Linked DNA regions of Homo sapiens. The protein of the gene in region 2 interacts with the protein of the main gene of each other region in a pairwise test. Each region holds a gene or a part of one and is shown on either strand. Other genes may lie near its edges.

What was found. Proteins that work in one complex are often made in the same cells at the same time.
Region 1: the proteins of MUTYH (region 2) and TDRD7 interact in a two-hybrid assay, tested with the Homo sapiens proteins (one large-scale study listed by BioGRID and IntAct).

The regions. Positions count from the first base shown.
Region 1 is NC_000009.12:97,491,251-97,495,149, forward strand, and holds part of TDRD7 (tudor domain-containing protein 7), read left to right. Parts: intron 1-3,899. UniProt on the Homo sapiens protein: Component of specific cytoplasmic RNA granules involved in post-transcriptional regulation of specific genes: probably acts by binding to specific mRNAs and regulating their translation.
Region 2 is NC_000001.11:45,333,471-45,338,604, forward strand, and holds part of MUTYH (adenine DNA glycosylase), read right to left. Parts: exon of another isoform or gene 4,728-5,134; coding exon of another isoform or gene 4,716-4,727; intron 1,498-4,715; exon of another isoform or gene 1,357-1,497; intron 1,042-1,356; coding exon of another isoform or gene 1,036-1,041; coding exon 921-1,035; intron 164-920; exon of another isoform or gene 134-163; coding exon of another isoform or gene 92-133; coding exon 1-91. UniProt on the Homo sapiens protein: Involved in oxidative DNA damage repair. Initiates repair of A*oxoG to C*G by removing the inappropriately paired adenine base from the DNA backbone. Possesses both adenine and 2-OH-A DNA glycosylase activities.

The DNA of each region.
Region 1 (3,899 bases), on a different chromosome or scaffold from region 2:
TTCTTAGAATTTCTGTGTTTCTACTTCCATTATCCATCTGTTCTTAAATTTTGTCTGCTTTTCCATTAACACTGGTACCGTATTAATCATAGTTGTTTTAAATTCCTGGTCTGATTATTTCCAGCATTCCTGCCATATTTGACTCTGATTCTGATGCTTGCTCAGTCTCTTCAAACTGTGTTTTTTTCCTTCCATATCACTTGTAGTTCTTTGTTGAAAGGTGGACATGATACATTGGGTAAAAGGAAATCTGGGTAAATAAGGCTTTTGTAATGTAGCAGCAGCAATGTGTGTCTGGGGTGTGAGGGATGTTATGTAGTCCTATGATTAGGTCTCAGTCTTTTGTTGAGCCTGTGCCCCTGGACTGGGAACTTCACCAGTGCTTCTTGGGGTCTTTCCCCCTAGCTTAGGTGGAGCAGGATGGCTAGAGGGGAGTGGAGTTGGGTATTTCCCTTCCCCCAGGAAGGTTAAGCTCTATAAAACCCTGTGAGGTCAGGCTCTAGTAAAATAGTTTCTTCTGAGGACAGAGCTTGTTAAGAAAAACAGAAAGCTCTGGTGTATTTCAAAATGTTCCTTTTCTCCTCCCCCAACTGGAAGCATGAGGAGATTTTTCCCTGATATTCACTGTGAGTACCAGGTAGTGCTTCTGGAGGTAAAACTCTCAAAAGTGTGGGAGACAGGGCCCTATAACTGGGTTCCCCTGGAGTTTTTAACTCTCAGACTTATTTACATGTACCCCTAGCAATTTGTCAGTTACAGTTTAGGTTTCCCTCCTCTGGCTTCCAGGCCTCTGCTCATTGGTTTCTGCTCTAGTACGCTTTGACTCTCAGTATCTTCCTGTCTGTCTCTCTGGTTTTGGGGACAGTGAATTGCCCTGTGACCTTCCTTCTCTGATGGACCTAGGAGTAGTTGTTGATTTTCTGTTTGTTCAGCTTTTTGTTTCTTATTAGGAGGCAGTAGCAACTTCTAAGCTCTTTACATGCCAGATCGGTAGGCAGAAGTTCTACCAACTGCTTTACTTCATTGAACTCTCCCCATGCTAGGAGGTTTAGGTACTGTTACTATAACTGTTATACACATCAGGGAATAGCAGCTTAGTGAAGTTAAATATCTTGTCCAAGATCCCACACCACAGCCTTAAACTCAGCACTCTGCCTCTTCAGTGTGTGCCTTTCTTCACTGTATACTTCCTTCTCCATGAAAAGTGTGGTTTTTGAAGTCAAAAGGCTGAGATTCAAGTCATTTAACTTCTAAACCTACCCCATGATTATTTATAAAATTACCAGTAAATTCCTATCCTGTCTATGTGACTGAACTAATATGTGGATCAGATGAAAAAGTGAATATGAAATTGCCTTTTGAACTAAAACTCATAGTCCAAATACATGAAAGTTTCTTTGTACACTTACATCTGAAACAGCATTGCTGTTGGGTCCCATCCATGTCCTGAGTTCCTTTTCTAGGCTCACCTCTGCCAAGCCTTCTTTCTTCCTTTTGACTTGCTCCTAAGTCACAAAATCTTCCTGGGTATCACATTATCCATTTTGAAGGGAGGACCTCCATTTTATAATTAATTGAAAACATATGAACTGGAACTATTAAACTATATGTGGCGGAGAGTATGTCTCTCTTGGGCCAACATAGGCATCCACTAGAGAGAAGCGAGGTAGACTAGAAGTTTCATGGAAGTCACTGGTTGTGACATGGCCATTGGAGTCATCACTTTGGTAGACTTGGTTCACACCTAGCCAAGCCCTTTGACATATTTAGGAATATCTCTAGATGTAAAGGAGCTCTGTGGAATCTAAGTGGAACCCATGGGAATGCCCTGAGTGTTTAAACTGGAATGCTTTAAGGATTCTCCAGGGACCTTGGGATTACCCCTTACTCGCTCACAAATGGGATCACTGGATGCCCACCCTTTCAAGGTTCCCAGTGTATTGGGGGAAATTTCAGCCAGATATCGGGTAAAATTCACCCCCGATATTTCATGTAGGTTCTTTTCTATTTTCCCTAAGTGTCGGCCGGTCTGAGAAATAAAGGGACAGAGTACAAAAGAGAGAAATTTTAAAGCTGGGTGTCCGGGGGAGACATCACATGTCCGCAAGTTCCGTGATGCCCCCTAAGCCGTAAAATCAGCAAGTTTCTATTAGTGATTTTCAAAAGGGGAGAGAGTGTACAAATAGGGTGTGGGTCGCAGAGATCACATGCTTCACAAGGTAATAAGATATCACAAGGCAAATGGAGGCAGGGCGAGATCACAGGACCACAGGACCGGGGCGAAATTAAAAGTGCTAATGAAGTTTCGGGCACACGTTGTCATTGATAACATCTTATCAGGAGACAGGGTTTGAGAGCAGACAACTGGTCTGACCAAAATTTATTAGGTGGGAATTTCCTCGTCCTAATAAGCCTGGGAGCACTACAGGAGACTGGGGCTTATTTCATCCCTACAGCAGTGACCATAAAAGACGGCCGCACCCGAAGCGGCCATTTCAGAGGCCTACCCTCAGGGACGCATTCTCTTTCTCAGGGATGTTCCTTGCTGAGAAAAAGAATTCAGCGATATTTCTCCCATTTGCTTTTGAAAGAAGAGAAATATGGCTCTGTTCCGCCCGGCTTACTGGCAGTCAGAGTTTAAGGTTATCTCTCTTGTTCCCTGAACATTGCTGTTATCCTGTTCTTTTTTCAAGGTGCCCAGATTTCATATTGTTCAAACACACATGCTCTACAAACAATTTGTGCAGTTAACGCAATCATCACAGGGTCCCTGAGGTGACATACATCCTCCTCATCTTACAAAGATGATGGGATTAAGAGATTAAAGTAAAGACAGGCATAGGAAATCACAAGGGTATTGATTGGGGAAGTGATAAGTGTCCATGAAATCTTCACAATTTATGTTCAGAGATTGCAGTAAAGACAGGAGTAAGAAATTATAAAAGTATTAATTTGGGGAACTAATAAATGTCCATGAAATTTTCACAATTTATGTTCTTCTGCCATGGCTTCAGCCGGTCCCTCCATTTGGGGTTCCTGACTTCCCACAACACCAGTGAGTTGTTGCTTCATTACATCTGGCCTTGACCTGGGCATTCTTTGCATCAGTGCACCATGGCCATGCACAAAATTTTCTGAATCCTAGAAGAAAGGGAGCCATACTGTGGAATCATCTTTTACCTTACCAATGGGTTACCTTTTTTCTTCTTAAATAACATGGCTCAAAGATTGTCAGGGCTGCTGCAGATAAAATGAAATTTCTAGGCTTCTCTTGTGGGAAATAAATAATCAAAGAATTTAGCCCATTTGCTATATAGATAGCAAGTCTTCCAAAATTATGTCTGAAATTTCCATATCTTAATTACTTTGGGGCATAATTTACAGTTTATGTAATCCAGTATATGTGGACTTAATTGTATTTCTTGAAATATGTATATATATATGTATATATATATATATATATTTTTTTTTTTTTCGAGAGGGTCTCACTTTGTCACCCAGGCTGGATGGAGTACAGTGATGCAGTCACGGCTCACTGCAGCCCTGACCTCCCAGGCTCAAGCGATCCTCCTCCCTTAGCCTCCTGAGTAGCTGGGACTATAGGCACAGGCCATTACACCCGGCTAATTTTTGTATTTTTTGTAGAGACAGGGCTGGGCTATGTTGCCCAGGCTGGTCTCGAACTCCTGAGCTCAAGATACCTGCCCGCCTTGGCCTCCCAAAGTGCTGGGATTACAGGTGTGAGCCACTGTGCCCGGCCAATGTGTACTTTCTTGTCCCAGTTTTGTTTTAAAATCGAATTTAGAATTCTCTAACTTGATTTCTCATGATCTGATCCAATCAGGTTCTTTTATCATAGGTGAGATCAGCTGATTTGCCTAAGACCACACCACCCGATA
Region 2 (5,134 bases):
CGGAAGGCTGTGACTTCAGCTACGTCTCTGAATAGATGGTATGAGGAGACAGAGGCCTGCAATACCACCTCTTCCGGCTGCCTGGCCAGGCCTGCTGGGGCCCCAGGACACTCAGCAATCATCCCTGCACAGGCTGTGCATCAGGGTCTTGGGACACAGCAGCCTGTGGCAGTATGCTCCCACTTAGGGCTTCCCCCAACTAACCCCCTTAAGCTTTGGAGCTGGAGTCAGACCAGAGTTATGTAATTGTGTGTAGCTGTGGCTAAGTTTCTGGCCTTAATTTTCTCAGGGTGGTACTACTGGCTTGTCTCTGAGCCATAATGAAAACCTAATAGTTTTAGCCAGCTAGAATGTATACTGGTGCAGGACCTTCCTATTCACAAAACACTTTCAGGCTCATAAACTCATTTGGTCCCATGAAAGCCACATGAGGGAGGAAATGCTGAACTACTGCTCCATTTTACTGGTAAGAAAGCAGCCATTCAGAGCAATTGTCCCAATGTCACACAGCAATACAGTCAGAATTACACCCTCAGTGAGTCTCTTTTGTTTTGAGACAAGAGTCTGGCTCTGTTGCCCAGACTGAAATGCAGTTGCATTATCTTGACTCAGTGCAACTTCTGCCTTCCAGGCTCAAGCGATCCTGTCACCTCAGCTTCCCGAGTAGCTGGGACTACAGACGCTCACCACCACGCGAGCATAGAGAGGGGATTTCGCCATGTTACCCAAGCTGGTCTCAAACTCCTGGGCTCAAGGGATCCACCTGCCTCGGCCTCCCAAAGTGCTGGGATTACAGGTGTGAGCCACCGCACCTGGCCCTTAGTAAGTCTCTTAATGTCTTGATACGTATCACAATCCCTTCCCAGCCTGAATCTGCCTTTCATGGCCAATGAGCCTTGGGCCACAACCTAGTTCCTTACCATCACAGGCAGAAGGCTTGGCCTGACTGTTGTTCTTAGCATGCTTCTGCCTCCCTTCCTGGCTGGCTGCCTGCTTCCTGTGACCACTTCCCACGGCTGCTCGTGGCTTCCTCATGATGGCCTGAAACAAAAAGACCCAGCCAAAGCAGTCAGTCACAATGAGGCCAAATTTTGAGGCCTTCCAAGGGTGATAGCTATCTCCCTCTCATCCACCATTCACATGGGGTCCAGCTTCTCTCAAGCACTCTCAAGATGCTCACGGGTTTACTCTTGGCTGGCTGCAGCACTGAGATACAACTAGTATAGCTGAGCAAGTGGCCTCAAGGGGGCCGGCGTTACAGCCCTGGAGACATGCAAAGACTGTGAGGCCAGGGCTGGGATGGGTCAAGGATGAAAGCCTCCTGTTTGGGAGCATTTGTGTATCTCTGATGCTTACTGTGACTGTGTGTGTGGATAGGGGTTGTTTAGGTGTGTCTGGGAGAATGGGGGTAGGCGGTTTCTCTGCCTCTTAGAGATGTAGCATGGTTACACTGAAACAGCCTGTAGTAGTCATTAAGTCCAAAACCTTCATTTTATCCTAGAAGAAACCAAGGATCAGAGGGACAAAAGATCTGTCTGAGAACAGATGGCAAATCAGTGGGAGAACAGAGATTAGCTATTTTTATTCCTAATCTAGTAAACCATAGGTGGCTGACCATCAACAATGAGAAAATGTGCCTGGTTGATTTTCACTGCTCCCTAACTGTTATAATGGCCGCCTTTTCTCTAACAGCTAAAATTAGTTGATATTTTGTGAGTGCCTACTCTATGTCAGACCCCATGAAGAGCTTTACCGGATCTCTCAATCTCCTGGTGACTCTATGAGGTATGTACTAGTATCACCTCCACCTTAGTTATAAGGAAATTGAGGTTTATGGAGATTAAGCGACTTGTTCTTTCAAATCCACGACCAGCATTCTTATACTGTGATAAAATGCAGTCCCTGCTAAGCCTCTGTATCAAACTCTCCCCCCAAACCTTTGACTTTACCACCTCATTTTCATCAAAAGAGCTTGCCTCCTCCTTCAGAAAAAAAAAAACCAACTTCAAATCTACCTCCATTTGCACTGTCTTACCCTCCTCCTCTTCAGGGTCCTGCTCCTCCAATCCCGTCTAACTGTTGGAACTCAGAAACTAATACCCCAGGCCAGGCACGGTGGCTCATGCCTGTAATCCCAACACTGCGGGAGGCTAAGGCAGGCAGATCACTTGAGGCCAGGAGTTCGAGACCAGCCTGGCCAACATGGCGAAACCCCATCTCTACTAAAAATCCAAAAAAATTAGCCAGACGTGCTCGCTTGAACCCAGGAGGCAGAGCTTGCAGTGAGCTGAGATCATGCCACTGCACAGCCTGGGCAACAAAGACAGAGCAAGACTCTGTCTCAAAAAAAAAGAAAAGAAAAGAAACCAATACCCCAAAATATGGCCCTCTGACATGCTGAACTCAAGAAGCCGCAAGGTCTCTCTGATCCTTCCACCCCAGACTCTCCCAAAGCCAGGATAAAGTTGTTCTCTGGAACTCTTTATCTGCCTAAAGTCCAAACTCACTAAAAAGAATACTTGTTTTTTCTTCCCCTCCCAATAAGACTAACATGTAACCACACCTGAACAAACCCTTTCACAGGTATTGTGTACCTCAGGATCACTCAAATTCCAAAGAGAACTATTAACAAGTCAACCTCTGTCCCCATTCCATTCTCTCTAGTAATCCTTTATTGCCCTTCAACAGAATCTCCTTCTGGCCAAAGTTCGGTTTATTTAAAAACAAATAGAGCTGGACATGCTGGCTCAGGCCTGTAATCCCAGCACTTTGGGAGGCCAAGGCAGGAGGATTACTTGAGCCCAGGAGTTCGAGATTAGGCTTGCAACATAGCAAGACCCCGTCTCTACAAAAACAGAAAAACAGAATTTCTCTTCTACCCCTTGTCAGGCCTCTGAGCCCAAGCTAAGCCATCATATCCTCAGTAACCTGCACTTATACATCCAGATGGCCTGAAGCAACTGAAGATCTACAAAAGAAGTGAAAATAGCCTTAACTGATCACATTCCACCACTGTGATTTGTTTCTGCCCCACGCTAACTGATCAATGTACTTGGTAATCTCCCCCCCACCCTTAAGAAGGTTCTTTATAATCTCCCCACCCTTGAGAATGTACTTTGTGAGATCCACCCCCTGCCCCCAAAACATTGCTCTTAACTCCAATGCCTATCCCAAAACCTATAAGAACTAATGATAATTCCACCACCCTTTGCTGACTCCTTTTTTTCAGACTCAGCCTGTCTGCACCCAGGTGAAATAAACAGCCTTGTTGCTCAGACAAAGCCTGTTTGGTGGTCTCTTCACATGGACACACGTGAGACACCCCTCCCATAATCTGTTTTGCCAGATGGTATATAAACTCACGAACTCTGTAGGGAGATGGGTAATCACTTTATGGTTCTCCCAATGTGCATGTTAATAAATTTGTATGCCTTTTCTCCAGTTAACCTGCCTTTTGTGAGCTGATTTTTCAGCAGATCTTCAGAGGGCAAAGGGAAAGATTTTCCCCTTGGCTCGTAACACAATCAAATCCCACCCTCCTTCCCTTCATAGCCAAACTTCCTTCACCAAACCTGCTTACTTCCACATTCATTCTACAATCTATTCTCCAAAGAGCAAAGGAATCTTTTCCAGATCACGTCACTTCCTTCCTTATAACCTTCAATGGTTTCCCATTCTTTTTTTTTTTTTTGGGATGGGGTCTCACTCTGTCACCCAGGCTGGAGTGCAGTGGTGTGATCTTGGCTCACTGCAACCTCTGCTTCCTCGGCTCAAGCAATCCTCCCACCCCAATACCCCACCCCAACTCCAAGCAGCTGGGACCACAGGCGCACACCACCACCACATCCAGCTAATTTTTGTATTTTTGTTAGAGACAGGGTTTCACCATGTTGCCCAGGCTAGTCTCCACCTCCAGAGCTCAAGCAATCAACCCGCCTCGGCCTCCCAAAGTGCTGGGATACAGGCATGAGCCACGGCGCCTGGTGACACCCCATTATATTCTTTTATTTTCTTTCTTTTCTCTTTTTTTCTCCCTCCCTCTTTCCTTCCTTCCTTTTTTCCTTTTTCTTTCTTTTTTAAATACTGTAGGCCTTTACTATGGGTCATTAAATTCTTGAGCAAGCTGGTTGTGGTGGCTCAACACTGTAATCCTGCTACTCTGGAGGCTGAAGTGAAGAACAGCTTGAGCCCAGAAGGTCGAGGCTGCAGTGAGCTATGATTGTGCCACTGCACTCCACCCTGGGCTCAGCAAGACCTTGTCTCTTAAAGAAAAAAAAAGATTGAGCAAATATTTATAGAGCCCCCTAATATGTGCCAAGCAGTTTTAGGCACTTGGCATACTTCAGTAAATAAAACATCAAAAGTTCCTGCCCTCAGGGAGCTTATATTCTAATGGGGACAGAAAAGGAATAATGAACATAAGTAAATTCCATAAGATGTTAGGTGATAAATATTAGCATAAAAAGCAAAAATTAGACCAAGAGGGGAAAAAAAAGAGTGCCAAGGTGGGGTTTAATGTTGCAATTTTAAAGACTGTGGTCAAGGTAGACCCAAAGCATTCTAAGTGAGTGCAAAGGCCCCAAGGAGGGTGCCTGGTATGTCTGTGGTACAGTAAGTAGGTCAATGTGGTTAGAATGGAATGAGATGGGACTGAGTGGTAGAAGAGGTCAGAGAAGTAAACCAGATGAGGTGGGGAGAGGAGGGTCACAAAGTACCTTATAGGCCATTGGAGGGATTTGGCTGCCACACCCTTGCTCTTAGAAGGCAGTCCTCTTACTACAGCCTTGCAGGTCCAGTGATCCGGGCACCATCCGCCTCATCCCCTCACTATGCTCTAGCCAAGGTTGACTGAATTTAGTTGCTTAAACACCTCAAGTGTGTCTGCCCACCTTGGGGCCTCACACAATCCATTTCCTCTGTTTGGACTCTTTTATGCTTTTACCTAACACCTTATCATTTTTCAAGTCTTGACTGAAATGTCCAAATCAGGTCCCCTCATCTTATCCTATCACATATTTCTGCCTTGTAGCTCTTACCTAATGTAATTTTACATTACTTTGATTCTTTCCATCAGTGTGTACTTCCTGAATTTGACTGTAAAAAACGACTTGAGTGCAAGGACTGATTCTCTTGT